Linked DNA regions of Homo sapiens: region 1 is linked to region 2. Evidence: fine-mapped expression QTL. Tissue or cell type: lymphoblastoid cells. Region 2 holds a variant in brackets; the other region holds the start of a gene. All regions are shown on one strand. Distances are from middle to middle.

Region 1 (16,474 bases), 180 kb after region 2:
GCACCCTGTTGAATTACATAGATGGAGTTTCTACAGATATTTAAAATTTCTAGACTGGAGAGGTTACCAAAACCGTTATTATGTAAGATAGTAACCTTGTTCTCAATCAAATAGAGCTCTGTGAGTAAAAAGTATGTCTGTAGAACTCTTGTGTCTGTACCATTAAGAGTAATTTGGTTATAACTGAGATCAAGTATAGTAACATCTTTCTTGATATCTGCTGGAATCAAGGTATAATTTTTTTCAGTAAAATTACATTGGACTTCCTAGAAAAACAAAAAAAAGAAAGGCATTAATCAGAAAAAAAATTAATAGAATTTCACCAAATTTCATATTTAAGCACTTAGACATTAGAAGGACGTTATTTTGGGAAAAAAACCTACTATCTAATATTTTGGTGTTACAGTAGAGCAAATCTTTTTCTTTATTGGGATGAAATACTAAAAATTAAGGATATTCTGATACATACAATTGAACAAAGAGATTCCAATTTGTCATACGGGTATTTTCCAACTGTTATTACATGATCATTACAGAAAGTAATGCTACTGGAATATTCCCATTTATATATGTGGAAATGTATGGTAAATAATAATTCTGTTAACATTTAATATTCCAGTGTGCACAATTGCTTTATAGTGAGGAAATTATTTTAAACTATATGTGTTTTTAAAATCAGCAGAGCTAACAACATTATACCTAGGGCTGTTCAATAATTAATAAATGGGCTGGGCATGGTGGCTCACGCCTGTAATCCCAGCACTTTGGGAGGCTGAGGCAGGCGGGTTACCTGAGGTCAGGAGTTCAAGACCAGCCTGTCCAACACAGTGAAACCCTGTCTCTACTGAAAATACAAAAAAAAAAAAAAGTCAGCCGGGCATGGTGGCAAGCACCTGTAATCCCAGCTACTTGGGAGGCTGAGGCAGGATAATCGCTTCAACCCAGGAGGCGGAGGTTGCAGTGAGCTGAGATCATGCCATTACACTCCAGCCTGGGCGACAGAGCGAGATTCCGTCTCAAAAGCAAGCAATCAATCAATCAGTCTGAATAAACTCTCTGGTTTAACTCTCTTAAACTCTCTGGGTTTAACAGCTCAAAGTTTGGTGTTTTAAAAGGAAATATTTATCTTTTATCAGAAATGGAGCCAGGTATTGAATTTAAAGAGCCACACAATCTGAAATTCTTTATGTGGATATAGATGGAAAGAAAGAAATAGTTCTTGTTTTTACTGAACAGTAAACTAAGAATAAATAGAACTAAGAATAGTTCTGGTTTATTACTGTTTTTGCAGTTAGATTTTTTCACCAATAATAATTCAATAGCAGTTTCTCTCATAAATATGTGCTTTTTAAAAAAAAGTTTCCTACATTTTAAACAAGATTTTACTCTTAAAACTAATTTCTGATTTTATAGTGAAAATTTTCAGATCTCTCCCTTTAATCAACTTTTAAAGAACTCAGTTTTTATAAATGAAGGCTGCTTTTGTCAAATTGGAATTTGGATATACAGAGCTAAATAAACTCTTAATTTTAGTAGGTCAGATTTTCTTTGCTTTCTTATTGCCCTTTTATATTTTACTAAATATACAGAAAATGTACCTTTGAAAATATTTTTACTATTTTGATTGTAAAAACTTACTCTTTTAGAAGACTGGATTTTGTCTGATAATAATATCATGGAGAGGGGCCAAAAGAGGATTGTGATGCCTGTGACTTTCATGTTGCAGACCTGATAGAAAAGAGAGTATTTTCATTAAGGACATTTTTATTTTTCCCTCTTTTGAATCTGTTTATTCTTTTTTTTTTTTTTTTTTTTTGGCTGAGACAGGGTCTCACTCTGTCACACAGACCTGGTGGCATGGTCACAGCTCACTGCAGCCTTGATCTCCCAGGCTTAAGCAGTCCTCCCAACTCAGCTTCCTAAGTAGCTGAAACACAAGCATGCACTACCATGCCTGGCTAATTTTAAAAATTTTTGTAGAGATGGGGTCACCATGTGTTACTCAGCCTGGTATCAAACTCCTGGGTGCGAGCCATTTCCCCCCAGCCACTGGCGTGGCCTTGAAAAGTGCTGGGATTATAGATATGAGCCACTTACCCTGGCCTTTCAAATCTACTTTTTCTTGAAATACATAAAATGTGAAACAAGTGCATGGCCATTCACCATCCTTGCACTCTGATCTTAATAAACTAGAAAGCCCCTTTGAAGAATGAGACTGATTTCTATTTTTTCTTTTTAGAGAAAATTAATATTTTTAAGTGTGTCTCATTAGTTTCTAGATCTCATGAAAGGAGCTTTAAAGCAATTTAAGTGGTTGTAAATTTTAAAAATTTAATATAGAAGTGCACAAAAGAAATTCAGGAAAACGTATATTTATGCATGTTTAAGTATATGCTTATATTGATGGTCTTGATTTTTTCAATTTTAGGCATTATCTATTGGCATTATCTATCTATTATTCTTGACTTAAAACTGTGGGAGATGAGAATCTTTAGCACTCTTTTTCCCCCCATGGTAACTTTTAAAAATTTTATTGAGGCGTGGTAGATATACATAGTTTTGGGGTACATGTGATAAAGTAGTGCATTCATATAATTTTTAAAGATCAAATTAATGTACTTGGGATATCCAACACGTTAAATATTTGTCTTTTCTTTATAATGGAAACATTCAAATTCTCTTCTAGCTGTTTTTAAATGTACAGTAAATTAGACGAGAGGGAGAGCATCAGAAAATAGCTAATGGATGCTGGGCTTAATACCTAGGTGACGGGTTGATCTGTGCAGCAAACCACCGTGGCACATGTTTACCTATGTAACAAACCTGCATAACCTGCACATGTACCCCGGAACTTAAAAATAAAAGTTGAAGGAAAAAAATTACTGTAAACTATAATTACCCTACTGATCTAACACTAGGCCTTCTTTTTTTAAGCAAACTGTATGTTTGTATGCATTAATAAACTTTTCTGCATTCCTCCCTCCCTACCACCCTTTCCAGCCTCTGGTAACCACTAGTCTACTCTTAATCTATATGAGGTCCACTTTTTTAGCTCCCACATGCCGGTGAGAATGTGTGATATTTGTCTTTCTGTGCTTGGCTTATTTCACTTGACATAATGACCTCCGGTTCCGTTTTTGTTGCCGCAAATGACAGGATTTCATTTGTTTTTATGGCTGAATAATATTCCATTGTATATATATGCTACTTTTTTTTAATCCATTCATCTGTTGATGGGCACTTAGGTTGATTCCATAGTTTTGCTCTTGTGAATAGTCCTCCAATACACATGGGAGTGCAGCTATCTCTTTAATATATTCATCTCTTTTTTTTAAATGTATACCCAGTGGAATTACTGGATCAAATGTAAATGTAAGTGTTATATTTTTAGTTTTTTAAGGAACCTTCATACTGCTCTCCAGAGTGGCTATACTAATTTACATTCCCAAGAGTGTATGAGGGTTCCCCTTTCTCCACATCGTCACCAGCATCCGTTATTGCCTGTCATATTGATAGAAGCTACTTTAATGGGGGTGAGATTATATATCATTGTAGTTTTGATTTGCATTTCCCTGAGTGATTACTGATGTTGAGCATTTTTTCCACATACTTGTTTGTCTTTTGTGTGTTTTTTGAGAAATATCTATTCAGTTCTTTTGCCATGTTTACTTGGATTATTTGTTTTTTATCGGTTTGTTTTTGGCTAGTGAGCTGTTTGAGCTCTTTATATCTTCTGATTATTAACCCCTTTTTAGATGGGTAGTTTGCAAATATTTTCTCATTCCGTGGGTTGTCTCTTCACTTTTTTGATCATTTTCTTTGCTGTGCACAAGCTTTTTTGCTTGGCGAAACCCCATTTGTACATTTTTGCTTTGGTTTCCTGTGCTTTTGAGGTCTTAGAGACACAAAAAAATCTTTGTCCAGGCCAGTGTTCTAGAGCAATTCTCCAACGTTTTCTTTTTTTCTCTTTTTTTTTTTTAAATAAAGAAAAGAGGTTTAATTGACTCAGTTCCACAGGCTGTACAGGATGCACGTCTGGGGGGTCCTCAGGAAACTTACAATCATGGTGGAAGGTGAAGGGGAAGCAGGCATGTCTTACATGGCTAGAGAAGGAGGAAGAAAGAGCAGAGGGAGGAGCTACACACTTTTAAACAACCAGATCTTTTTTTCTTTTGAGACAGAGTCTGGCTCTGTTGCCCAGGCTGGAGTGCAGTGATGCCATTTTGGCTCACTGCAACCTCTGCCTCCTGGGTTCAAGTGATTCTCATGCCTCAGCCTCCTGAGTAGCTGGGACTACAGGCATGTGCCACTTTCATGCGGGTCCATGTGAAGAGACCACCAAACAGGCTTTGTGTGAGCAACATGGCTGTTTATTTCACCTGGGTGAAGGTGGGCTGAGTCCGAAAAGAGAGTCAGCCCTCCAGTGTTTTCTTGAAACAGTTTTATAGTTTGAGGTCTTATTAAAGTCTTTAATCCATTTTTATTCCTGGATATGGCAAGAGATAGGGGTCTGGTTTCATTTTTCCATATATAGTTATGCAGTTTTTCTAGCACCATTTATTGAAACAACTATTATTTCTCCATTTTATGTTCTTGGCACCTTTGTTGAAGATGAGTTGATGTAAATGTGTGTATTTATATCTGAGTTCTCTATTCCATTCCATTGGTCTATGGATCTGTCTTGATGCCAGTACCATGCTGATTTGGTTACTATAGCTTTGTAGAAAATTTTGAAGTCAGGTAGTGTGATGCCTCCAGCTTTGTTCCTTTTTGCTGAGGGTTGTTTTAGCTATTTGGGATCTTTTATGGTTCCATATGAATTTTAGGATTTTTTTTTCTACTTCTATGAAGAGCGTCACTGTATTTTGATAGGAATTGCATTGAATCAGTAAATTGCTTTGGTTAGTATTGATATTTTAGCAATGTTCTTCCACTCCATGAACATGGATTATATTTCCATTTTTTTTTGTATCCTCTTCAGTTTCTTTCATCAGTGTTTTACAGTTTTTGTTATATAGATATTTCACTTCATTGGTTAAATTGATTCCAAGGTATTTTATATTCTTTGTAGCTATCGTAAACAGGCTTGCTTTCTTGATTTCTTTTTCAGATTCTTCACTGTTGGCATATCTAAATTCTACCAATTTTTATATGATGATTTTATATCTTGCAACTTTACTGAATTCAGTTGTCAGTTTTTACAGATTTTTTGTGGAGTATTTAGGGTTTGTTTTTTTTTTAATTTTTTAAGTGTAAGATCATGTCTGCCAGGTGCAGTGGCTCACGCCTGTAATCCCAGCACTTTGGGAGGCCGAGGCGGGCAGATCACCTGAGGTCAGGAGTTTGAGACCAGCCTGGCCAACATGGCGAAACCTCATCTCTACTACAATTACAAAAATTAGCCGGGTGCAGTGGCAGGCACCTGTAATCCCAGCTACTTGGGAGGCTGAGGCAGCAGAATTGTTTGAACCTGGGAGGCAGAAGTTGCAGTGAGCCGTGATCATGCCACTGTGCTCCAGCCTGGGTGACAGAGTGAGACTCTGTCTCAGAAAAAAAAAAGAAAAACTAATCAGAGTAGGCAAGAATCCATGCAGCATACTAAAGTCTCTCGCCTCGTTAGCAATAAGGAATTTACTGCTATTTTAGTGCTAGTCTGTTCTAGTCAACTTCCTCATTGCCTTTGATTTGTTGATCCATTTATGCACATTCCCCTTCTACCTTTTCTCTTTCCATAGTTAAATGAAATTTGTTAGGAAAAGCTACTCTGCCTCCTATATTTTATAAAATTTGGATGTAGATCATAATAGAATCCCTTTTAGAGCCAGAAGTGCATTTAAACTATCACTTATTCAAGATGATTGCCCATAGAAGAGGGATGCCTAAATCATTTACAAAAGGTAGTTTACCTATGTTTAATGATTTATAGGAATAGGTGTTCAGCTCCTTCAATGGCTTGTTTCAGTATTTCTCAATGATGTGGTGAAATTCTTACTGATGTCTCTAGTAGGCTGCAGAGGTGACTGAGGAGAGGTGGGTAAGGGAAGTGCTGTTTTTTTTCCAGAAACAAATAGGATGGGGATAGTGAAAGAAAGCAAATAGGCTACAAAGAAAATGAACTAGATTTAAGTTAAAAGTTGATATGAAATAGAAGCAGGTGAAAAAAGTAATGGAGGCAAGACAGGACTGTGAGCTTATGTGGAAATGGAGACGGAGTATGGTTTTATATTTATTATCTGTATCTGCTATTTAATGCTAATAATTGTTTTCTCAAGTGCGCTAAAAGAAAAAAATCATAAGGATTAGAAAAGGATTTTTTTTCCTTTCCATTGGATAGATCTTGGAAGCAGTGTATACTCAGCTCAAGGTAGATTCTGTACAAGAAAGCATTCAACAAATCTAAAGCATCGTTAGGTCTGAAGCTGTGAAATACATTGATTGATCCATACTATCTGTGAGAGTTTTCACATATTTGTGTGCCTTTTCAGAGGAGAAAGATTGAAAGAGGGGGTGATGTCGATTATCATGACACTGAGTAAGTCCCCAGACAAAGCATTTGCTAGCATTATTGGGTGTCTTTAAAAAAAGAAAATCAGATACGCAGAATAGCTGGCCAAGTAGATTATGCAGAAATTATCCATCAGTCAGTTTAGCCTGTTTCAACAGTTGGTTTAAAAGGAAGTCAGTCATTGTTGCTTTCTTTCTCCTTTTGGAATATTTTCTAATTTGGATTTTTTTTGAAATGATAGTTGAGTTTCATATAGTGATTACTTAGGAGCTAATATAAAATAGAAAACTGGAATAGAAGATGGAATATCAGTTTCTTTTGTTATTTCACAAAATTACGTGCATTTTTACCTAGCATATGATCTACGTTACTGAAAAAAAAAGAGCTTTACTCAAAGGAAATGGTAGATACTGAAAAAGAAGCATTGTTCTTAATAAAGTTTCAAGTACATGTTTCTTAAGTTATTTACTTTATATGATTATTATATGCTATGAAATAAAGAGATGCTGTAATTATTTTGGTTTTGTTAAAATCTAAATGTAGTTTTTCCATTAAGTATTTTAGATATTTATGCCAGAATTCAATGTATTTAGAGAATGATGTTAATAATACACAATTAACTTTGTTTCCTTATTTAACTATTGTGTAGATTTTTTTCAGATTTAAAACCTTTTTGTAATGGAAAATTTCAAGGAAAAAACCTAAGTAAGAAGAATAGTTATCAGCCTGCTTCAATAATCATCAACTCATGGCCAGTCTTTTTTTTATCTTGCCAATTGGCTTTTAGATTAGTGTCACTTCAGAATGCTCTGTGATTAACATATTTTAAAATAAAAATTCTTATAAATTTGATTGGCTAGATGAAACCATTTCCCCCCCCGCCCCCCGCAAAACAATTACTTAGTATTGTATTCTAACTTTATTTAGGAAAGACCCTTTGGCCATGTCTCAGGTATATAGTATTTTTGAGGTAGACCATGTGAAAATATAATCATATTTTCTTATTTTTCATCACTTCTTAAAGGCAAAGATGGTTGTACAGACTTAACAAACTTAAATATGATTAAAAAAAATACAACAATAACCAAAGCTATAAATATACATATCTTACCTTTTTTTCTTTTGTCTCTAAGACTTGTGTGCTAAAGGAAATTAACTCTGTTTCAACGGCATTAAAAAAAGTACATCGTATGATTACATTTCACTTTGTTTTAACCTTTGTACCCAGTGAACAGGTGATTTAAAAAAAAAAACTAGACTTCCTTAGCAAAAGATTGACTAGAAGAATAATTTCTTAAAGTCATCTTTTCCTTTTTTAGTATAACAAGTAAGGCTGTTTGCCTAACCTTTGTGTTTCTTTCTTTTTTTTCTTTTTTTGAGATGAAGTCTCGCTCTGTCATTCAGGCTGGAGTGCAGTGGCATGATCTCGGCTCAATGCAACCTCCACCTCCTGGGTTCAAGCAGTTCTCCTCCCTGCCTCAGCCTCCTGAGTAGCTGGGATTACAGGCTCCCGGCACTGCACCTGGCTAATTTTTGTATTTTTAGTAGAGATGCGGTTTCACCATGTTGGCCAGGCTGGTCTCAAACTCCTGACCTCAGGTGATACCCCTGCCTCAGCCTCCCAAAGTGCTGGGATTACAAGTGTGAGCCACTGCACCCAGCCTACCTTTGTGTTTCTTAATTACTCTTTGAAAATTTTATTAAAGTATTAACAATTTTACTTACTGATTTAGAGTTTACAATATTGAAAATGCATACTTTTGAAAGATATACTGTTGCTAAATTAATTTATGTTTGTCCTGATGGTATTTTGTGCTTAGAAGCATTCAAACTGAGGTCAGGTGCAGAGTCTGACACCTGTAATCCCAGCACTTTGAGAAGCTAAGATGAGAGAATAATTTGAACTCAGGAATTTGAGACCAGCCCGGCCAACTTAGCAAGACCTTGTCTCTACTCAAAATAAAAAGTAAAAACATTAGCAGGGCATGGTGTTGTGTGCCTTTAGTCCCAGTTACCTGGGTGGCTGAGGTGGGGGGATGGCTTGAGTTTGAGCATGCAGTGAGCCATGATTGTGCTACCACAGTCTAGTCTGGGTGACAAGTGGTACCTGTCAAGAAAGAAAGACAGAAAGAGGGAGAGGGAAAGAGAGAGAGAGAGAGAAGAGAAGAGAGAGGAGGGGGAGGGGAAGGAGGAGGAGGAGGAAGGGAAGGAGGCAGGGAGGGAGGAAAAGGAAGGAAGGAAAGGAGAGAGAGAGAAAAGAAAGGAGGTAGGGAGGGATTCAAATTGTAAAGATACCACCAAGTTTTGTATTCTATTGAGTTTCAACGTTTTTGTTTACTTATTATTGTGTGTTTTTTTTTTTTTTTTTTTTTTTGAGATGGAGTCTCGCTCTGTCACCCAGGCTGGAGTGTAGTGGCGCAGTCTCGGCTCACTGCAAGCTCTGCCTCCCGGGTTGACGCCATTCTCCTGCCTCAGCCTCCCAAGTAGCTGGGACTACAGGCGCCCACCATCACGCCCAGCTAATTTTTTTGTATTTTTAGTAGAGACGGGGTTTCACCATGTTAGCAAGGATGGTCTCGATCTCCTGACCTCGTGATCTGCCCGCCTCGGCCTCCTAAAGTGCTGGGATTACAGGCATGAGCCACCATGCCCAGCCTGTTTACTTACTTTTATGACACCATCATCAGTGGTTTTACTGCCAAGTTATAACAGGAGCAAAGTACTCAAAGCATCAAAAAGACCTTACACCTGGACATCATATGGCCTTTAGAAAGTCAGTTACTTTTCTTATGCTGTAATTTCTCCTCTGTAAAATGGAATACTTTATAACATTAGTTCTCATCTTCCTACATTGAAAGAAGAAACACTGTTGGTAGTCAGTAATCAAATTTAGAATGAATTCCTTCCAAAAGATTAATTCCACTGGGCTTCAGTATCCTTAATTTATGAAAATAGATACTTTCCTTTCAATTTCTTTGAGCTCATATACCTATACAAATTGTAGCAGCAGGAAACACATTTGTTTTACTGTTGTAATTGAAGCTCCAAGTGAAGATACCACTTCTTCTCCAACAGTGAAACAAAAATAAATTGAAATTCCAGGTTGCTTTACTATGTTCATCTTTTATTTGGTTATTTTGAGATTTTTTTTGGTAGGGAAATTTCTGAGTTTAGGTTGTTTATTCTAGTAGTAGGATATGAATGTGTAGAAGGTGTGTAGGGGATATGTGGATCCACAAGCTTAGCTGGTGATTGTGAAAACTATAGAAGTTGGTATCTATGAGCGAAAGAGAGTAAATAGTGATAGGTTAATCAGATTTTGAAACTCAAAATAGAAATTAATGATCTTGGGAGTGAAAATGTGTGTTCAATCCAGCTTTTTATAAAATGTAAATCTTGAAAGTATTTAGATAAGTGGCATCTTACCTATTCTTTTTTCAGAGTTTTTCTCTACCCTATCAATAATTGACCTTGCCTAGGCAACAAGTGACATGTCATTGGTATTTCTTTTGATTACGTGATAAAAATGGTTATTGCTTCTAATTAATTTCACTATTACTACTTTTATAGGATTATGTTTGTAATGTTTATTGTGTTTTTAGAGAAATGAGCTTAATATTTTACAATGCTAAAAAATAGCAAAAATTTGTGAAATAGCAATGTTAACTAAAGCAGTAAGTAAAAGAGAACTTAAGCAAAGCATATTATTAATCTAAAGCCATAACTAAAAAATCAAATTGCACTGCAGGCCTCTCTACTCCCTAGTTCTGTCAGAGCCACACTGGATGATTTACACGGGAAACTTCTATACAGTATTTAATTTAGTCAGAAAAACTTATGGCTAAAGGATGCTTTAAAACCACAATTCTAAAACTTATTTGTCTTTTTTTTTTTTGAGATGGAGTTTTGCTCTTTTGCCCAGGCTAGAGTGAAGTGGCGCGATCTCAGCCCACTGCAACCTCTTCCCCACTGGGTTCAAGCGATTCTCCTGCCTCAGCCTCCCAAGTAGCTGGGATTACAGGTGCCCGCCACCACGTGTGGCTAATTTTTGTACTTTTAGTAGAGATGGGTGTTTTGTCGTGTTGCCCAGGCTGGTCTCGACCTCCAGACCTCAGGTGATCCACCTGCCTCAGCCTTCCAAAGTGCTGGGATTACAGACGTGAGCCACCGAGCGCAGCCTCTTATTTGTCTTTTGAAGGTATAACTTTAAAAAAGTATAAATGCATCCTCATATATATAAGTCATTAAGGATTTTTTGGTAATCTTTGTGATTTCTTAGTAAAATAAAATGGAGAGTAAGGAAATAGAGGAATTTAGGGATGGAGAAGAGAAAGATGTAAAAATAAGTTTGTGCTAATGGGGCCAAATTTTATATAGGTCAAATAGCATTTTTTAGTACAAATATAAAGACTTTTCAGTCACACACTGTGGTTGAATGTCTTTAAGTATCCTATTAAATTAGGACCATGACTTGTATAAAATAATTGGATATTTTTTCCTCAATATAGTATCAGGAATATTACGTGCTTCTGATTTTAGGAAAGAAAAACAAATCAGAAGTGTCGAAGAAGAAATTGAACAGGAAAAACAAGCAACAGATGACATTATCAAAAATATGTCTTTTGAAAACCAAGTCAAGTACCTAGAGATGAAAACCACAAATGAGAAACTGTTACAGGTAATACAAATTACTGCTGTGTGCCAAGCATGTATCATTCTTGCTACTAAAAGTATAGTTTGAATATCAGCAGCATCAGCATCCCCTGAGAACTTGACTATACTTTGAGATCAGTTTTCATTTTAACAAGGTCCCCATCTGATTCATACGTATATTCACATTTCAGAAGAATTTATTTAGAAAACTTCATTTTCATCTGCTGTTTGATGACCTAGCTTTTACTCTTATTATTTTTGGTTTACTTCTATTTATTCATTTTGCATTTCATAAAGACATGAAAATACTCGCATTTATAAAAATACTTGTCTATAAATATTTGCATTTATAAAAGTACTTTTCTATAAATGTTTGCATTGATAAAAATACTTGTCTGTAAATTAAAAAGTCTGTAAATACTTGCAGTTACAGACTTTTAATGCAAACATTAAAAGGCCTCATAGGTGGAGGTTGCAGTAGTGAGCTGAGATTGCACCACTGCATTCCAGCCTGGGCAACAGAGCGAGACTCTGTCTCAAAAAAAAAAAGGCCTCATAGACCAGATCCATATATATATTTACTTTCCTTTTCCTTCCTGCTTAATAAACAGCTAACCTTTTTACCTGTTAGCATTATGATTTGAATGGCTATTGTCCTGTAATTATATTGCCTAAATTTCCATTTTTAAAAATTAATTTTTTTATTGATACACAATTGTACATATTTATGGGGTACATGTGATATTTCCATGCACGTATGCAATGTATAATGATCAAATCGGGATAATTAGGATATTCATCACCTCAAACATTTGGCATTTTTTTTGTGCTGGAAACATTTTTTTTTTTTTAATTTAAAAAAAATTTTTTTTTTGAGACGGAGTCTCGCTCTGTCGCCCAGGCTGGAGTGCAGTGCCCATCTCGGCTCACTGCAAGCTACGCCTCCCGGGTTCATGCCATTCTCCTGCCTCAGCCTCCCAAGTAGTTGGCACTACAGGCGCCCGCCACCACGCCCGGCTGATTTTTTGTATTTTTTTAGTAGGGACGGGGTTTCACCGTGTTAGTCAGGATGGTCTTGATCGCCTGACCTCGTGATCCGCCTGCCTCGGCCTCCCAAAGTGCTGGTATTACAGGCATGAGCCACCGCGCCCGGCCTTATGCTAGAAACATTTTGAATCTCCTTTTCTGGCTATTTTGAAACATACAATTAATTACTGATAACTATAGCCACCCTAGTGTTCTATCAAACATGAGAATTTATTCCTTCTCTCCCCCACACCACCCCATGCCCCCAACTGGGCACCACCTTCTCAGCCTCTGGTAACCATCATTCTACTACCCCCTTTTTTTTGTTTTTTTTTTTTTGTTTTTTTTGAGACGGAGTTTCGCTCTGTCGCCCGGGCTGGAGTGCAGTGGCGCGATCTCGGCTCACTGGAAGCTCCGCCTCCCAGGTTCATGCCATGCTCCTGCCTCAGCCTCCTGAGTAGCTGGGACCACAGGTGCCCGCCACCACGCCTGGCCAATTTTTTATGTGTTTTTAGTAGAGACAGTGTTTCACCGTGTTAGCCAGGTGATCCGCCCCCCTCGGCTTCCCAAAGTGCTGGTATTACAGGCGTGAGCCACTGTGCCCGGCCGAGATCCACTTTTTTAGGCTCCTACAGATGAGTGAGAACATGCAATATTAAATAAGCAATTTAAGTCCCTGTTGAGGGCATATTGAGAATCCTCTCAATACTCAGTCATGGTGGTTCCCTTTCATGCCCAGATGGCCCTTAACTAAAGATTAAGCAAAGAATTAGGCCCCATAAATGCCAATAATGATTATAGTTTTAGTTTCTTAGACATTCCTTTGCTGACAATTTAGTAACCTTTTTATTTTAGAGAAGATTTCTAAGATACTGTGAAGCGTTGAAGAAAAAGTATGGCCTGGCCAAGATGGTGAAACCCTGTCTCTACTAAAAACACAAAAATTAGCCAGGCATGGTAGCAGGCCCCTGTAATCCCAGCTACTCGGGAGGCTGAGGCAGGTACTTGGTTGATCCCGGGAGGCGGAGGTTGCAGTGAGCCGAGATCATGCCACTGCACTCCAGCCTGGGCAACAGAGCGAGACTCTGTCTCAAAAAGAAAAAAGAAAGAGTATGATAGAAATGCCAAAATAGTACCAAAATATAGTTAATCTTGTATGGGATAATGAATGAGTAAACAGTTTAAGGATCTTATCTTAGGAGTGAACCATATTTATATTTACATATACGTGTATGTATGTGTACATGTGAACCATATTTATATTTACATATATGTGTATGTATGTGTGCATGTGTTATATGTGTGTGTACACAGTATAGAGAAATTAGGCAAAAGATGTGAAAACACGGTTACAAATCAAAATTTTAAATAATAATCTTAAACAATGACATAATTTGAAAGCTTCTGATATTTGATGTCTCAGAACATAGTGATGATTCAGTGTGAAAAGGTCTAAGGTCTAGCTACTTTTGAGAAACTCATGAAGTTTTTTTTTTTTTTTTTTGAAGGCACACAGCAAGTTTTTAAGAATAATGAAAGAAGTTGGGAAAAATAGAAATAATGAAGTGTTAATAAATTCTAGTCAAAATGTAAGATGCCAGTGAAGATATTTAGAAAATTTACTTAGTCACTTTGAAATGTTGAGAAACAGAGAAATAAATTTTTTTTCCCAGCTCCCTCCCCCCACTACAACAAATTATTCTTAATGTAATTTGGATTTATGTTTGCTTTTTTTTTTCCACTTAGGAATTAGATACACTTCAACAACAATTGGATTCACAGAACATGAAAAAAGAGAGCCTGGAAGCAGTAAGTATAAAATCAAATAAGGGTTCTCATACTACTCAGCTAAAAAAGTTAATTCAGCCAAGTATATTAATATAACTAATTCAACTACATATTGATCTGGCAGCTTACTAATAGGAGTTTAATACTTTTTCTTCCTATTCTGGACCCACAAAGATCCTAGTATGGTAAGAAATTAGATTCAGTTATTGAGTACCTACTATGTATAAAACAAATCATTCCGCCCTACCTAGGACATGCAAAATCCAATAGCAATTAAAAAAATTATTTTTTTAGAGACAGAGTCTTTCTTTGTCACTCAGGCTAGAGTGCGGTGACATGATCGTAGCTCACTGTAAATTCAAGCTCCTGGGCTCAAGCGATCCTCCCTCCTCAGGTTCCCAAGTAGCTAGGACTTCAGGCAGGAACCACCACACCTGGCTAATTTTTTTTTTACTTTTTGTAAAGACAGGGTCTCGTTATGGCTGATGTACAGCTCCTGGCCTCAAGCAATGCTCCTGCCTTGGCTTCCCAATGTGCTGGGATTACAGGCATGAGGCATTGTGCTCAGCCTCTAATGGCAATTTAAAGACACATACACAAGAGATTATAAAAACAAAGAAAGAGGGAGAGACATGAGTTCATCTCTTTAAGGATGTAAAAACTTACTTTTTTTATTCATTTATTTAAAACGCTTTATTTCACAAAACAAAATGTGCATATGGTTTAAAAATAGTTGAACAAGAGGAAAGTAAAAATGTCTGTTTTTTTTTTTTTTTTTTTTTTTTTTTAGACAGAGTATCGCTCTGTTGCCCAGGCTGGAGTGCAGTGGTGCGATCTCGGCTCACTGCAAGCTCCGCCTCCCAGGTTCACGCCATTCTCCTGCCTCAGCCTCCAGAGTAGCTGGGACTACAGGCACCCGCCACCACACCCAGCTAATTTTTTTGTATTTTTAGTAGAGATGGGATTTCACTGTATTAGCCAGGATGGTCTCGATCTCCTGACCTTGTGATCCGCCCACCTCGGCCTCCCAAAGTGCTGGGATTATAGGCGTGAGCCACTGCGCCCAGCCAAAATGTCTGTTTTGTGTCCTTCTTTCCAGATAGAACTACTGGAAAGACATTTATCAAGTGCTTACTGTATGCTTTTTTGAGCTGTAAACACATATCAGCATCATCTTCATGTAATCCCCACAAGAGTCCTAAATCCCATCTTGGTTTTACAGTTGTGGAAAACCTCAAGTGGGGTTCCTACGTGCTATGCTAGCTGCAGCTTTCTTTTTTCACCCTAACATTGTATCTACAGTGTCTATTTATATCAGTTCCTAGAGAACCTCCTCATTATTTTAAATTGCTACAATGTATTATGTTGTATAATTATAACACAGCCTTGTAAATGAACAGGTTGTTTATAGTTTTCCGGGATTATAAACAATACTCCTGTGAAAGCATACATTTTATGCGAAGTTATATCATAAGATTGAATTCTCACAATGGGTCAAAAGGTATACAGTTTAAAAATGTTGTCAGATTGCCAAATTGCCTTCAAAAAGGTTGTTCCAACTTTTACTTCTAGATGTAATGTATGTGAATGCTTATTTCCCCTGCATTCACTGACAGCAAATATTATCTGACTTTTCCAGTTTTAGCTATTTTGATAGGTAAAAATTACTACCTTATTTGAATTTTCATTTATTTATGAATAAAGTTGAGTATCTATTTATATCATTTTTGGCCAATGAATTTCTTTTTCTTTGAACTCCTTTTTCATATTTTTGGCGTTTCAGTATACTGTCTGTATCTCAAATCTTGCCTCCCTTTCCTGATTTCCTGTGGATTCAGGTAGACATCATGATGACAGTATTAGGAACTGTTGTAGACTGATAGATTGCTGACACCCTAGCTTGCAAAAGAAATGAGTATTTTGTAATTAATTCTTTTGAGAATTTGCTATTGAAAAAGTTATTTAATTAAAAATAGTAAGGTAGTTGGCTGGGCGTGGTGGCTCACGCCTGTAATCCCAGCACTTTGGGAGGCCAAGGCAGGCAGATCACAAGGTCAGGAGATCGAGACCATCCTTGCTAACGTGGTGAAAACCCGTCTTTACTAAAAATACAAAAAATTAGTCGGGCATGGTGGCAAGCACCTGTAGTCCCAGCTGCTCGGGAGGCTGAGGCAGAAGAATGGCATGAACCCAGGAGGCAGAGCTTGCAGTGAGCCAAGATCACGCCACTGCACTCCAGCCTGGGCGACGGAGCAAGATTCTGTCTAAAAAAAGTAAAAAAAAAGCAGGTAGTTTTCTGTGTCTGGTTGTCCATCTATAAAGACACTTAATTTTTATTTCCTTGGATCTCTGGTGATGGAAATACGCTTAAAGAAAGAAGGACCACATTTAGTATTAATACAACCAGCTTGCAGAATTCCTCATGGTTCTTTTTTGGAGTGGGTTTGAGAGAGTCAAGTCTTACTTCACTTGGTGAATTTGGTTTCCATAGGAAAAATCATA
Region 2 (16,474 bases):
ATGTCCAGATGAATGAAGAGATAAATATCTTAGCACAGGCAAAGAAAATATATTTTAGGCTAGGCACAGTGGCTCATGCCTATAATCCTAACACTTCAGAAGAGCAAGGCAGGAAAACTGCTTGAGCTCAGGAGTTCAAGACCAGCCTGGGCAACATAGTGAGGCCACATATCTACAAAAAAAATTTAAAAATTAGCTGGGCACAGTAGAGTGCACTTGTAGTCCTAGCTACTGAGGAGGCTGAGGCAAGAGAATCGCTTGGACCCAGAAGTTTGGGGCTGCAGTGAGCCATGATCACACCACTGTACTACAGCTTGGGTGACAGAGCAAGATCCTGTCTCCTAATATATATTATATATAATTATATATTTATATATAATTATATGTATATAAATTATATATTATATATAATTATATATTTATATATAATTATATGTATATAAATTATATATAATATATAATATATAAATATAAATTTTATATAATATATAAATATAAATTTTATATGTAAAACACCAATGGAGATGTTATTTGAAAAAACACCAAATGGAGATGTTATTTGAAAAAACACAATAGTATCAAAAAAATTTTAAATTGCTACATGGGCTTAATAGCAGAATTGGGACAAAACAGAAATGAATTAGCATGCTTGAAGATAGAGCAATGGAAATAATCCAATCTGAACATGAGAGGAAAATGATCTTAAAAAAAAAGCTTCAGAGATCTGTGTGACAATATCAAAAGGCCTAGTATATAAGTAACTGGGGTCCTGAAGAAGAAGAATGAATATATATACTGTGTATATACATATGAAGAAAGATTAAATACAAAGAAAATCATGATAAGGCACATCAAGGTGAAACTACTTAAAACAAAAGACAAAGGAAAAGTTTTGAAGGTAGCCAAAGAAAAATGACACATTACATACAAAGGAACAACAATTCAAATAACATGGACTTGTTATCAGAAACTATGAAGCCCAGAAGACAGTGGAATGCCTTTTGAGTCCTACAAACGGCACTGAGTTAAGGACAAAGAAGGGTATTTTATCAGTAGTGGGGGATAATTCGCCCTAGATGAGCACATAGCAGTCCTGCTTAATAAATCTTAAACACAAGAATGGAAAGAATCAAACTATTTACAAGCAACTTAACTGTATCTCAGTAAAAAAGCTTAAGACTATTTATAGGAATAAAAATATTCAGCACCCAACAAACTAAAATCCACAATGTGTGACATTCAATCAAAATTGCCAGATCTGTAAAGAAATGGCAATATATGACTCATCATGGAGAAAAACTAATTAATTGAAAATAACCCAGAACTAACAGAGTTGCTAGAATTAGGAGACAAAGACTTTAAAAAAACAGTTATTGTAACTGTTTTCTATATGCTCAAAAAGTTAAAGCATGAAAGATATAAAAATGCATATCAGGCCGGGCGCGGTGGCTCATGCCTGTAATCCCAGCACTTTGGGAGGCTGAGGCGGGAAGATCACCTGAGGTCAGGAGTTCAAGACGAGCTTGGCCAACACGGTGAAACCCCGTCTCTACTAAAAATACAAAAATTAGCTGGGCATGGTGGCAGGTGCCTGTAATCCCAGCTACTCAGGAGGCTGAGGCAGGAGAATCACTCGAACCCAGGAGGTGGAGGTTGCAGTGAGCCGAGATCACACCATTGCACTCCAGCCTGGGGAACAAGAGCAAGATTTCATCTCAAATAAAAAAAAATGCGTATCAAACTTCTTAAAATGAAACCATTACAATGTATAATGAGAAATGTATTAGGTGGGATTAATGCCAAGGATGGGATTAATTGCAGAATAAAAGATTAATGAGCTTAAAAGACAGAAAGATAATTAAAAAAATAAAATAAACAGAGCATCATTGAACTATGGTAAAAACTTTAAGTACATTATATATATATATATAAAATGTACATACTGTATATACACATATGAAGAAAGATTACATACTATATATATGTATATATAGTATGTAACATATATATAATCTTCATATGTAATAACATATATATATGTTATTAGTCTTTCTTCATATATGATAACATATATATGTATATGTTACTAGAGTCCCCAAAGGAAGAACGGGGCAATAGAAAAATATTTGTAGAAATGATGGCCAAAAACTTTCCAAATGTGTTAAAAATGATAAATGCACAAATCCAAGAATTCCAATTAACTCCCAATCACAAGAAACATGAGTTCACATTGCAATAAAATTGTTCAAAACTGGTGATATAGTCCTATAAAAAGTCATGTTATATACAGAGAAACAGTGATGACAGAGATATCTTAATGGAAACACAGTGGAGCAATATCTTTAAAGTATCAAATGAAAAAGGCAGACAATAACGAGTGTTGGCAAGGAAACTTGAATCTTGATATATTGCTGGTGGGAATGTCAAACGGTGCAGCTAATTGGAAAGCAGTTTTCCAGTTTCTCAAGAAGTTAAACACACAGTTACCATATGACCCATCAGTTCCACTTTTAGGTAAATACCTAAGAGAAATAAAAATATGTGTCTACACAAAAATTTGCACATGATTGTTTGTAGCAGCATTATTCATAAGAACCAAAAAGTGAAAACACAATAATCAGCCATCTCATGAATGGATAAATAAAACATAGTATATCTGTATAAAAGGAACATTATTTGACCATTAAAAGGAATTAAGTGTGATAACATGGATGAAGGATGAAAATAAAGAAGCCAGAAAAAATGGTACTTATTGTGTGATTCAATTTATATGAAATATGAGGAATAGGCAAATCCAGACAGACAAAAAGTATATTAGTGGTTGCCATGGGCTGGGGGAAGTTGGGCCTGGAGGGTATCTGCTAATGGGTATGATGATGATGATTTTGTGGTGATTAAAATGTTCTGCAATTAGTATTGATGGGTGCATAACTCTGTAAAAACCACTGAATTGTACATTTTTAAAGGGTAAACTTTATGCTATGTGAATGACATATTAACAAAGCTGTCAAAATAAATGATAGAAATACATTGTGGAATATATCTAGAAAGAGAGTGTTACAAATGATGTACTATGTACAAATACTATTTATTTTTAATAAGTAAAGAAAAATTTAAAAATATAAATTGCCAAAATATCCTAATTAAATGGTAGAGACTAATATTAGATTAAAAAATAGAAGACCCAACCATATGCCAACTACAAGAAACTTAATTTAAATACAGATACTCCTCAATTTACCATGGGGCTACGCCCTGATAAACCCATTGTAAGTTGAGGATATTATATGTAAAAAATGCATTCAATACACCTAACCTACCAAACATCATACTTTAGCCTAGACTACCTTAAGCATGGCCAGAACAGTTACATTAGCCTATAGTTGGGAAAATCATCTAACACAAAGCTTATTTTATAATAAAGTTTTGAATATTTCATGTAATTTATTTAATACTGTATAATATGTCAAAATTGCAACAGTTTAACATCATAGCAAAGTCAAAAATTCCTAAGTTGAACCACGGTTGGGGATCATCTATATAAGACACAAATGGAGTTAAAATAAAGGTTAGAAAACATATACCATACTAACACTAATCAACAGAAAGCAAAACACTAATCAAAAGATACTAACATTAATCAAAAGAAAGCAGTAGTTGGCTGGGCACAGTGGCTCACGCCTATAATATCAGCACTTTTAAAGACTGAGGTGGGTGAACAGCTTGAGCTCAGGCATTAGGGACCAGCCTGGGTAACATGGCAAAAAACCATCTCTACAAAAATAGAAAAATTAGCCGAGCATGGTGGTGCACACCTGTAGTTCCATTTACTTGGGAGGTGGGATAATTGCTTGCACCCAGGATATGGAGGTTGTAGTGAGCCAAGATCATACCACTATACAGCCTGGGCAACAGGGTGAGATCATCTCGAAAATAAATACATAAATAAATAAGATAAAAAATAAGGCCAGACACTGCGGCTCACAACCGTAATCCCAGTACTTTGGGAGGCGGAGGTGGGTGGATCACTTGAGGCCAGGAGTTCCAGACCAGCCTGGCCAACATGACCAAACGCCGTGTCTACTAAAACACAAAAAATTAGCCAGGTGTGGTGGTGGGAGACTGTAATCTCAGCTACCTGGGAGGCTGAGGCAGGAGAATCACTTGAATCCAGGAGGCAGAGGCTGCAGTGAGCCAAGATCACGCCATTGCACTCTAGCCTTGGCAACAAGAGCGAACTCAGCTGACACCCTGATTGCCATCTTCTAGACTCTGAGCAGAGGACTCAGTTAAACCATCCCAATTCTTGATTCATAGGAGCAGAGATAATAAATGTGTGCTCTTTGAAGCCCAATTTGAGGTAATTTGTTATGCATCAACACAAAGTATGCTTTCTTTCAGTAAGTACAGAAGACATAAACAGAAAATAAGATCATATGAAGATTTGAACAACACTGTCAACCAAATTGACTTAACTGATGTTTACATAACGCTCCACCTGATAATACCAGAATATGTCTTTTTTTTTTTTTTTTTTTGAGACGGAGTCTCGCTCTGTCACCCAGGCTGGAGTGCAGTGGCACAATATCGGCTCACTGCAAGCTCTGCCTTCCGGGTTCACGCCATTCTCCTGCCTCAGCCTCCCGAGTAGCTGGGACTACAGGGGCCCACCGCCATGCCCAGCTAATTTTTTGTATTTTTAGTAGAGACAGGGTGTCACCATGTTAGCCAGGATGGTCTCGAACTCCTGACCTCGTGATCCGCCTGCCTAGCCCTCCCAAAGTGCTGGGATTACAGGCGTGAGCCGCCATGCCCGGCCCAGAATACATCTGTTTTGTTTTGTTTTTTTTAAGTGTTCATGGAACGCTTACCAACATAGACCATATTTTAGGCAATAATAACAAATCTCAATAAATTTTAAAAGATTCAAGTCAAACAAAGTATTTCCTGACTACAATGGAATGAAATAAAAAATCAGTATAACAGAAGATCCCTAGAAAAGTCTCCAAATATTAGGAAACTAAAACATACTTCTGGCCAGGCACGGTGGCTCACGCCTATAATCCCAGCACTTTGGGAGGCTGAGGTGGGCAGATCACGAGGTCAGGAGATCGAGACCATCCTGGCTAACACGGTGAAACCCCGTCTCTACTAAAAATATAAAAAATTAGCCGGGCGTGCTGGCAGGCACCTGTAGTCCCAGCTATTTGGGAGGCTGAGGCAGGAGAATGACATGAACCCAGGAGGCGGAGCTTGCAGTGAGCGGAGATCGTGCCACTGCACTCCAGCCTGGGTGACAGAGCAAGACTCCGTGTCGAAAGAAAGAAAAGAAAGAAGGAAGGAAAGAAAGAAAGAAAGAGAGAGAGAGAGAGAGAGAGAGAGAGAGAAAAAGAAAGAAAGAAAGAAAGAAAGAAAGAAAGAAAGAAAGAAAGAAAGAAAGAAAGAAAGAAAGAAAGAAAGAAAGAAAGAAAGAAAGAAACTTCTAAATAACCCATGGGTCAAAGAAAAATTAGGAAGGAAACAATTCTACCAGAAATACCGTAAAGCACCACAGACACTGAGCACTTATAACTTCACAAAGTTTTAGGTAAATGAGCAACCAAATGTAGACTGAATTATTGTATTTAAATACTTTAAAATGCAGCTCCTACAGAAGGTAACAGAGCTCCTACTGCAGGAATAGAAACAGGATTGTTACACTACCAAATATTTTTCCTGTAGGCTGAAAAGAGAAACTGTCACTTAGCCTGATGGCAATGAAAAACAAAAGATGAATGGAAACCAATTTATTTAGCCACTTTGAATCTCTGTTTACTTTTTTTTTTTCTCAGATGGAGTCTTGCTGTGTTGCCCAGGCTGGAGTGCAGTGGCGTAATCTTGGCTCACTGCGACCTCTGCCTCCTGGGTTCAAGCAGTTCTCCTGCCTCAGCCTCCCGAGTAGCTGGGATTACCAGCACGTCCCATCATGCCCAGCTAGTTTTTGTATTTTTTGTAGAGATGGAGTTTCGCCATGTTGGCCAGGCTGCTCTCGAATTCCTGACCTCAGATGATCTGCCCGCCTCGGCCTCCCAAAGCGTTGAGATTACAGACATGAGACACTGCGCCTGGCCCTGTTATTTATTACTTGTCAGCACATGCTGTTACTTCAATTTTATAAAAATCTAAAGATCACTCTTCTCTCCCACCCCATCTTTTAAAAAGAGACACAATTTTAAAACATTAAAAAAATTCTAAGTTTATTGTTTCTATTATTTTACTGAAGTATTGTTTGTTTATTGAACACTCTGCAACAAAGATTATTCACTGCTTTTACTAGTTAAGTTTAAATGTTTACAGGGATCATTGTGAAAATATAATTTTGGACCTATCAAGATAATACACAAACACAACAATTTTAAACAAGGCATTCAGAGAAAGTTTCCATTGCAATTCTGCATAGAATTGCGAGGAAGACTGAGACAGCAAACTCACAGCTAATAAAAAGTTCAATTTCTTTTTACTTTTTTTTTTTTGAGACGGAGTCTTGCTTTGTCGCCCAGGCTGGAGTGCAGTGGCGCGATCTCGGCTCACTGCAAGCTCCGCCTCCCAGGTTCACGCCATTCTCCTGCCTCAGCCTCCCGAGCAGCTGGGACTACAGACGCCCGCCACCACGCCTGGCTAATTTTTTGTATTTTTTAGTAGAGACAGGGTTTCACCGTGTTAGCCACGATGGTCTCGATCTCCTGACCTTGTGATCCGCCTGCCTCAGCCTCCCAAAGTGCTGGGATTACAGGCATGAGCCACCGCGCCTGGCCTCAATTTGTTAACTATAGTGTAATTGAACTCTTCAACATGTTACAAAACGCATACTTGTTACACCCAAAGTATATGATATTTCACTTTGATAATACCACAAGGTTTACATCATTCAATGGCAATCAACCATAAAAAAAAATCTTGTTCATATTGACTCACAGACATAGTGGCTCATATTGCCATGGGAAAAAAAAATTGTATTTGGAGAATCTGTCAAGAGAGTAATATTAAGCAATGTATGTTAATAAAATGTGACGCCTACCTCTGCCAAGCATAAAAGCCTGTTATCCCTAATTATGTTCTTCATCAAGTGTATACCTTTAAAGTGTCAAACACAGCCTACTAGTTGTGGGGCTAATTTTAGCTTTCAGTAATCAACATATCTTATGCTTCAAATGACATTAAGTGGCAATCTACCACAGAGTGCACAAGTCCATTTCCTTTATTCTATTGTTTCAGTGAACAGAAATTACACCATTTCTAGCATTTCCAGCAAATTTAGAGTTTGACTACAACCAGGACTCAAAGTAAATGTTAAGTGAATATAACACTGTGTTTTCAAATAGTTGCCTAAAGATAATGCCTCATTTAACCAATAAGTCAAGAACAGAAGCTGCCCATATAGTCTTCCTACATCAAAATATCTGTTTTTTGCAAAGCTTATTTGCACACAACTGCACATGAACCCCATTTCTTGCAGACTGACTCATGATTAGAAACATCAATTATCATATAGTACTGCGATATTTAGAGCAAGCAAAAACTCCTGAGTGTGTTATTATTTGCCCTTGCACTAAATAGGCTTCAAGAACCATGTAACTATAGCTCTGTCACTTCTTTCATTGCCAGACGTCATTTCTCCCTGTTGCATGTACTTCCTATGCACATCTCCCAGCACTCTCTCCCACACCTTCAACATCCTCTGAGCTTGAAGAATGAGCAACCATAGTTAACATACAACTCTAGAATATTGAGACTGTCATTTTTTTTTTCTTTTTAGATAGGGTCTCACTCTGTCACCCAGGCTGGGGTGCAGTGGCACCATCATGGCCCACTGCAGCCTCAACCTCCCAGGCTCAGGTGATCCTCCCACTTCAGCCTCCCATGTAGCTGGGACTGCAGGCATGCACCACACTCCTTGATGCCTTACAAATTTAGATACTCTCAGGAGGAGCTACTATTTAAGAGTTCCTAAATTCCACATCAATGCACTTAATAAAAGTTAATTTTGAGGATTCAAAAATAACCTTCAATGAAATGCCTATTCTTCACTAAAAGCTTTTGAAAATTCAACTGACATTAATTTACAGGCGGAGACATGAAAACCAGTTCTTATAGTTATATGTTGATGTAAATATGTTCTAAAACTGGGAATATTGATTTCATTTACTCAACTCGGAAAGCCATAAGTTATATAAGACTGATTTTTGCCAAATTGGTTGAAATTCACATCCTGACAAAACAGATTTTTTAATTCTGATAAAGATTTTCCAACTACTGATTAGATGGGAAAAGACGACATCGTAAGGTATATTTAAAGAGAATAGTTAATTATATAAACATGTACTTGGCCGGACATGGTGGCTCACGCCTGTAATCCCAACACTTTGGGAGGCTGAGGCAGGTGGATCACCTGAGGTCAGGAGATCAAGACCAGCCTAACCAACATGGAGAAACCCCATTTCCACTAAAAATATAAAAAATTAGCCCGGAGTGGTGGCACATGCCCATAATCCCAGCTACTTGGGAGGCTGAGGCAGGAGAATCGCTTGAACCCAGCAGGCAGAGGTTGCAGTGAGCCGAGATCGTTCCATTGCACTCTAACCTGGGCAACAAGACTGAAACTCCATCTCAAAAACAAAAAACAAAAAAACAACAAAAAAAAGTACTTAAAAAAA[C/A]CCCAAAGATAATTAGTTATTGGTTGTCCTCCATATTTTCACAAGCATATGGTATTTACAGTTATAGTCTTTGGTTCTTTCTGTGATTATAGCAGCAGTTTGATTAACTAGTGCACAGCAAAAACCATTTTACAGGCTTTAGAATGTATAAGTATTATGTTACATATTTTAATGCGAATAGCAAGAACTATAAAACATGAAACCTGACCCCCCAAATGCAGAATTTTAACTTTTAAATTTGGCATAAATAAGGTAGCTTAATTAGCACTTTTTCTCGGCTCCACTGCAAGCTTCACCTCCCGGATTCACGCCATTCTCCTGCCTCAACCTCGCCAGTAGCTGGGACTACAGGCGCCCGCCACCACGCTCGGCTAATTTTTAGTATTTTTAGTAGAGACGGGGTTTCACCGTGTTAGCTAGGATGGTCTCAATCTCCTGACCTCGTAATCCGCCCGTCTCGGCTTCCCAAAGTGCTGGGATTACGGGCTTGAGCCACCGTGCCTGGCCAATTTGGTGATTTTTAAAAATCACACTAACGACAGAATCTTATTAAAAATCCTATGTCGGACCAGGCATGGTGGCTCAAGCCTGTAATCCTAGCACTTTGGGAGGCCAAGGTAAGAGGATTGCTTGAGGCCAAGACTTCAGCCTGGGCAACATAGGAAGACCCCATCTCTATAAAAAAATAAAAATCAGCTGGGTGTGGTGGTGCCTGCCTGCAGTCCTAGCTATTTGGGAGACTGAGGTGGAGGGATCCTTAAGCCAAGAAGTTCGAGGCTGCAGTTGAAATGGGATAGTTCCCTTAACCCCTTTGGGGTTGGCTAGTTTACTCAGCCCACGGCTCTCAACCCCTCATAGGAGGGGAAGCACGCAGCTGAGTGGGTGCGGGGGCCCGTACAAGTGCTTCTGGACACCGGCAGGAGTAGAACTCTGTGTGGCCCCATGGCAGTGTCTAGGGGGGTACCTGTGATGCCCCTGGACCTCCAGAGGGTATGTATTACTAAAAGAGTGTGCTCTTTTAGTTTTGCCTTCCATGGACAGCTTAAGTGTTAAACAACTCAGTGAAGGGTCAGGGTGACAGCCTTTTGCACCCACCCTCTTGTACCCAAGTTCTCGTCTGGCATCTAGGAAGAATCAGGTTACACAAATGATCTGAGGGTTGGTGAATGTGGAGGATTTTAGTGAGCAGTGGAAGTGGCTCTCAGTGAGGTGGGGAGCTGGAACAGGGATGGAGTGGGAATGTAGTCTTCCCCTAGAGTTCAGCTCTCCCTGGCCAAACTCTTTTGAAGTCCCACTGTCAAGCTGTCCTGCTGAAGTCAAGCTGCTTCTCTCTGACATCTGGCTGCTTCTTCTCTTCTCTCTTCCTCTGCCTCTCCACTCTGCCACCCTGTCCCTCTGCCAGTGGAGCCTAGGGTTTTTATGGGTACAGGATGGGGTGTGGGGCAGGCCAAAAAGCAACATTCAAGCTGGAAGACAGGAATTTATGTTCTCACTATGGGCCACAGGCTTAAGGGTGTGGCCCTCGCTGGGACCACCCTCTTCTACCCAGTATTTCCCTGCTTCCTGTCCATATCACAGAGAGCAGTGCAGCTTGGGCAACAGAGTGAGACCCTATCTCTTAAAAAACAAAAATGCTATGGTCAAATGTATTTAGAGGGGAAAACAAATCAGTTACCAAAACTTCTAGTTCTTCCCTGGAATTTGAAAAAAAAAAGTCCCAAGCAGAAAGGATAATGCTAAAATAGAAGAGTAATGAACAAATATGAATTGTTCAAAGGAAGCAAGTTATCTTTCAAAAGTAACACATTAAATTCTATTCTTCTCCTTTAAAAAATTAAAACTATTAAATTTTTGATCTTTTTAAATCTATAGTTGTACCATTTTATTTTTATATAAATGACTCAATTTTATGATAAAACAGGTTTTTCAACTGACAATAACTATCTATTATAACAATACACCTAATACAACTAAATTCCTTTGCTATTAAGAAGCAGTGCTAACTTGTTTTACCTTCAGGCTAACAGTTGCTTCTGTCAAATAACAAACAAGCTTTGATTTTAAAATTAAAAAAAAAAAGCTTGAATAACATCAAAATTAACAAAATAATTTTGACTTTGTAAATATTCAGTAATATATTTTACATAAATTAGTTCTCCGTGATATAAAATACTGGATTATAATTTGTATACAAAGAAAATTGAATGCATATTTTAAAATGAAAACATAGTTGTATCTTGGGAAGCAAAAGTAGAGTTTTTCAATCTCTTTAAATCCCCACATAAAACAGGCAAAGCAATAGAAAGAAAAACCAAAACATTTCAAGCTAAGTATAGATGTTATTATAAGGACATATTATAAGTATGTCCTATAAAACCCATCATAAGTTGAAATAGCATAAGTCAAAAATGCATTTAATACTTTTTTTTTTTTTTTTTTTTGAGACAGAGTTTCACTCTTGTTGCCCAGGCTGGAGTGCAGTGGTGTGATCTTGGCTCACTGCAACCTCTGCCTCCCGGGTTCAAGCGATTCTCCTGCCTCAGCCTCCTGAGTAGCTGGGATTACAGGTGCCCATCACCGCGACCAGCTAATTTTTGTATATGTTTTAGTAGAGACGGGGTTTCACCATGTTGGCCAGGCTGGTCAAGAAGAACTCCTAACCTCAGATGATCTGCCCGCCTTAGCCTCCCAAAGTGCTGGGATTACAGGTGTGAGCCACTGCACCCAGCCAAAAATGCATTTAATACATCTAACCTACCAAACATCATAGCTTAGCCCTGCCTACCTTAAACATGCTCAGAACACTTACGTTATCCTGCAATTGGGCATAATAATCTAACACAAAGCCTATTTTATAATAAAAGTGTTGAATATCTCATGTAATTTACTAAATTCTGTACTGAAAGTAAAAACTAGAATAGTTGTATGGGTATTCAAAGTACAGTTTCTACTGAATGTGTTGCTTTTGCACCAATATAAAATCAAAAAATTCTAAGTTGAACCATCATAAGTTAAGACTACATTCCTATGATATTCTCATGAACTCCATAATATAAATTATTATTTATTATTAGAGCAGGCCACTAACAAGTCATAAAACCTTCATAATATCAGCATTTCTGTGGAAGAAAGCAAAGGAAAGCCAATTAGGATAGGTTTTGTCTCTAATAAGAATGCAAGAAATAATAAGGTCTGAACAGAGCCGGAACAGTGTAACCCCTAAGAACTCCAGAAACTGACCAGCCAGGACTCCCTTCTAGGACAGAATTCCACACTAAGGAGAAAGAGCTAGTTGTGATATAGAAAATCGTTCCGCCTTCCTCGAGCGGCTACGGGAGGACTTAAGGAAATATACTCCCCTGTGACCCGACTCCCTCGAGGGTCAATTGATCCTAAAAGATAAGTTTATTACCCAATCAACCGCAGATATCAGGAGAAAGCTCCAAAAACAAGCCCTGGGCCCTGAACAAAATCTGGAGGCATTATTAAACCTGGCAACCTTGGTGTTCTATAATAGGGACCAAGAGGAACAGGCCCAAAAGGAAAAGCAAGATCAGAGAAAGGCCACAGCCTTAGTCATGGCCCTCAGACAAACAAACCTTGGTGGTTCAGAGAGGACAGAAAATGGAGCAGGCCAATCACCTGGTAGGGCTTGTTATCAGTGTGGTTTACAAGGACACTTTAAAAAAGATGGTCCAACAAGAAACAAGCCACCCCGTCATCCATGTCCCCTGTGCTGAGGCAATCAATGGAAGGCACACTGCCCCAGAGGGCAAAGGTTCTCTGGGCCAGAAGCCCCCAACCAGATGATCCAACAACAGGACTGAGGGTGCCCGGGGCAAGGGCCAGCTCATGTCATCACCCTCACTGAGCCCCAGGTACGTTTAACCATTGAGGGCCAGGAAATTGACTTCCTCCTGGACACTGGCATGGCCTTCTCAGTGTTAATCTCCTGTCCTGGATGACTGTCCTCAAGGTCCATTACCATCTGAGGAATCCTGGGACAGCCTGTAACCAGGTGTTTCTCCCACCTCCTCAGTTGTAATTGCGAGACTTTGCTCTTTTCACATGCCTTTGTCGTTATGCCTGAAAGTCCCACACCCTTATTAGGGAGGGATATATTAGCCAAAGCTGGAGCTATTATGTACATGAATATGGGAAACAAGTTACCCATTTGTTGTCCCCTACTTGAGGAGGGAATAAACCCTGAAGTCTGGGCATTGGAAGGACAATTTGGAAGGCCAACAATTGCCCACCCAGTCCAAATCAGGCTAAAAGATCCCACCACTTTTCTTTATCAAAGGCAATATCCCTTAAGGCCTGAAGCTCATAAAGGATTATAGGATATTATTAAACATGTAAAAGCTCAAGTCTTAGTAAGGAAATGCAGCAGTCCTTGCAACACCCCAATTCTAGGAGTACAAAAACCAAATGGTCAGTGGAGACTAGTGCAAGATCTTAGACTCCTCAATGAGGCAGTAATTCCTCTATATCCAGTTGTACCCAACCCCTATACCCTGCTCTCTCAAATACCAGAGGACGCAGAATGGTTCACTGTTCTGGACCTCAAGGAGGCCTTCTTCTGTATTCCCCTGCACTCTGACTCCCAGTTTTTCTTTGCCTTTGAGGATCCCACAGACCACACCTCCCAACTTACATGGACGGTCTTGCCCCAAGGGTATTGGGATAGCCCTCACCTGTTTGGTCAGGCACTGGCCCAATATCTAGGCCACTTCTCAAGTCCAGGCACTCTGGTCCTTCAGTATGTGGATGATTTACTTTTGGCTACCAGTTTGGAAGCCTCATGCCAGCAGGCTACTCTAGATCTCTTCAACTTTCTAGCTAATCAAGGGTACAAGGCGTCTAGGTCGAAGGCCCAGCTTTGCCTACAGCTGGTCAAATATCTAGGCCTAATCTTAGCCAGAGGGACCAGGGCCCTCAGCAAGGAACCAATACAGCCTATACTGGCTTATCCTTGCCCTAAGACATTAAAACAGTTGCGGAGGTTCCTTGGAATCACCAGCTTTTGCCTATGACTATGGATCCCCAGATACAGTGAGATAGCCAGGTCCCTCTCTACTCTAATCAAGGAGACCCAGAGGGCAAATACTCATCTAGTAGAATGGGAACCAGAGGCAGAAACAGCCTTCGAAACCTTAAAGCAGGCCCTAGTACAAGCTCCAGCTTTAAGCCTTCCCACAGGACAAAACTTCTCTTTATACGTCACAGAGAGAGCAGGGATAGCTCTTGGAGTCCTTACTCAGACTCATGGGACAACCCCACAACCAGTGGCATATCTAAGTAAGGAAACTGATACAGTAGCAAAAGGCTGGCCTCACTGTTTATGGGTAGTTGTGGCGGTGGCTGTCTTAGTGTTAAAAGCAATCAAAATAATACAAGGAAAGGATCTCACTGTCTGGACTACTCATGATGTAAATGGCATACTAAGTGCCAAAGGAAGTTTATGGCTGTCAGACAACCGCCTGCTTAGATACCAGGCACTACTCCTTGAGGGACTGGTGCTTCAAGTGCGTACGTGTGCTGCCCTCAACCCTGCTACTTTTCTCCCAGAGGATGGGGAGCCGGTCAAGCATGGCTGCCAACAGGTTGTAGTCCAGACTTATGCCGCCCGAGATGATCTCTTGGAAGTCCCCTTGGCTAATCCTGACCTTAACCTATATGCCGATGGAGGTTTGTTTGTGGAGAGTGTGATGCAAAGGGCAGGTTATTCCATAGTTAGTGATGTAACCGTACTTGAAAGTAAGCCTCTTCCCCCAGGAACCAGCGCCCAGTTAGCAGAAATAGTGGCACTTACCCAAGGCTTAGAACTGAGAAAGGGAAGAAGAATAAATGGGTATACAGATAGCAAGTATGCTTATATAATCCTACATGCCCATGCTGCAATACAGAAAGAAAGGGAGTTCCTAAACTTTGGGGGAACCCCCATTAAATACCACAAGGAAATCATGGAGTTATTGCATGCAGTGCAAAAACCCAAGGAGGTGGCAGTCTTACACTGCCGAAGCCATCAAAAAGGGGAAGGAGAGGGGAGAACAGCTGCATAAGTGGCTGGCAGAGGCAGGAAAAGGCCAGCACAAAGGAAAGAGAGAAAGAGACAGAAAGTCAGAACAAGAGAGAGAGAGGAAGAGACAAAGAAGGAGTCAGAGAGAGAGACAGAAAGTCAAAGAGAGAGAGGAAGAGACAGAGACAAAGAAGGAGTCAAAGAGAGAGACAGAGAGAGGAAGAGACAAAAAGGGAGTCAGAGAGAAAGAGAGATACAAAGAAGAAGTCAAAGTGAGAGAATGAGAGATATAGAAGTAGTAAAGAAAAAACAGTGTACCCCATTCCTTTAAAAGCCAGGGTAAATTTAAAACCTATAATTGATAATTAAAGGTCTTCTCTGTAACCCTATAACACTCCAATACCACTTTGTTGTCAGTGTAAACAAGGGCGTAGCCTGAAAGCACTGAGGCCACTGACAACCCATAGTCTTCTTATCAAAAATCCTTAACCCAGCAGGTTTCCTAACATGGGATCTAAATCTTAATTAATTACCACACAAAGGTCCAACCAGATCTAGGAGGAACTCTCTTCAGGACAGGAGGATAGATAGTTCCTCCAGGCGATTAAGGGAAAAAGACACAATGGGTATTCCGTAAGTGATAAGCAGTTAGGAAAATTGCCTAATAACCGGTCTGCTCAAACTGTTTGCACTCAGCCAAATCTTAAAGTACTTACAGAATCAGGAAGGAGCCATCTATACCAATTCTAAGTTAATAGGACTGAATGAGGTTTTATTAATAGCAAAGAAAAATTAAAATCCCCAACTTACAAGGTTTTCAACTAAAGTAAATTTTGCTAAGTTAACAGGGTAATATGCATTATCCTACTACCACACACTCTCAAAGGATTTCTCAGACAGTTTGCAAGAAATAACGAAATCTATCCAGTAAGGATAGTAATTACAATCCCAAATAGACTCTTTGGCTGCAGTGACTCTCCAAAACTGCTGAGGCCTAGACCTCCTCATTGCTGAGAAAGGAGGACTCTGCACCTTCTTAGGGGAAGAGTGTTGTTTTTACACTAACCAGTCAGGGATAGTATGAGATGCCAACCGGCATTTACAGGAAAAGGCTTCTGAAATCAGACAATGGCTTTCAGACTCTTATACCAACCTCTGGAGTTGGGCAACATGGCTTCTCCCCTTTCTACGTCCCATGGCAGCCATCTTGCTATTACTTGCCTTCAGACCCTGTATTTTTAACCTCCTTGTTAAATTTGTTTCCTCTAGAATCGAGGCCATCAAGCTACAGATGGTCTTACAAATGGAACCCTAAAGAGTTCCCCTCTGGAGGACACTACAACGGCAGGGCCCGTTCTTTGCCCCTATCCAGCAGGAATTAGCTAGAACAGTCATTGCCCAATTCCCAACAGCAGTTGGGGTGTCCTGTTTAGAGGGGGGATTGAGAGGTGAAACCAGCTGGTTTTCTGGGTCGAGCGGGGACTTGGAGAACTTTTCTGTCTAGCTAAAGGTTTGGAAACGCACCAGTCAGTGCTCTGTGTCTAGCTGAAAGGTTTGTAAACGCACCAATCCATACTCTGTAAAAACGCACCAATCAGCGCTCTGTGTCTAGCTAAAGGTTTGTAAATGCACCAATCAGCACTCTGTAAAAATGCACCAATCAGCGCTCTGTATCTAGCTAAAGGTTTGTAAACAGACCAATCGGCACTCTGTAAAATGGACCAATCAGCGCTCTGTAAAACGGACCAATCAGCAGGAT

Alleles and levels. Positions count from the first base shown, and alleles are read on the strand shown. Sizes are in standard deviations (SD) of each study's normalised expression.
For the expression in lymphoblastoid cells of the gene that starts at base 7,697 in region 1, allele C in region 2 goes with a lower level than allele A (large effect, 1.0 SD a copy in GENCORD).

The links. PIP is the estimated chance that this variant, and not a neighbour inherited with it, causes the effect.
Region 1: it holds the start of LRRC19, and the variant in region 2 is the best candidate, but not a certain one, in a credible set for the expression of LRRC19 in lymphoblastoid cells (GENCORD, PIP 0.80).

Annotation. Positions count from the first base shown.
Region 1 is chr9:26,997,976-27,014,449 of GRCh38, forward strand. LRRC19 (leucine rich repeat containing 19) reads right to left here and starts at 7,697. Exons shown (of 5, transcript NM_022901.3): 1 at 7,617-7,697; 2 at 1,639-1,728; 3 at 1-266. The coding sequence starts at 1,719. IFT74 (intraflagellar transport 74) reads left to right here. Exons shown (of 20, transcript NM_025103.4): 9 at 11,045-11,183; 10 at 13,931-13,993.
Region 2 is chr9:26,814,029-26,830,502 of GRCh38, forward strand. No RefSeq gene overlaps it. Among named protein-coding and RNA genes, the nearest start is that of CAAP1, 71 kb to the right of the region's middle. The variant C/A (reference allele first, on the strand shown) is at 8,694.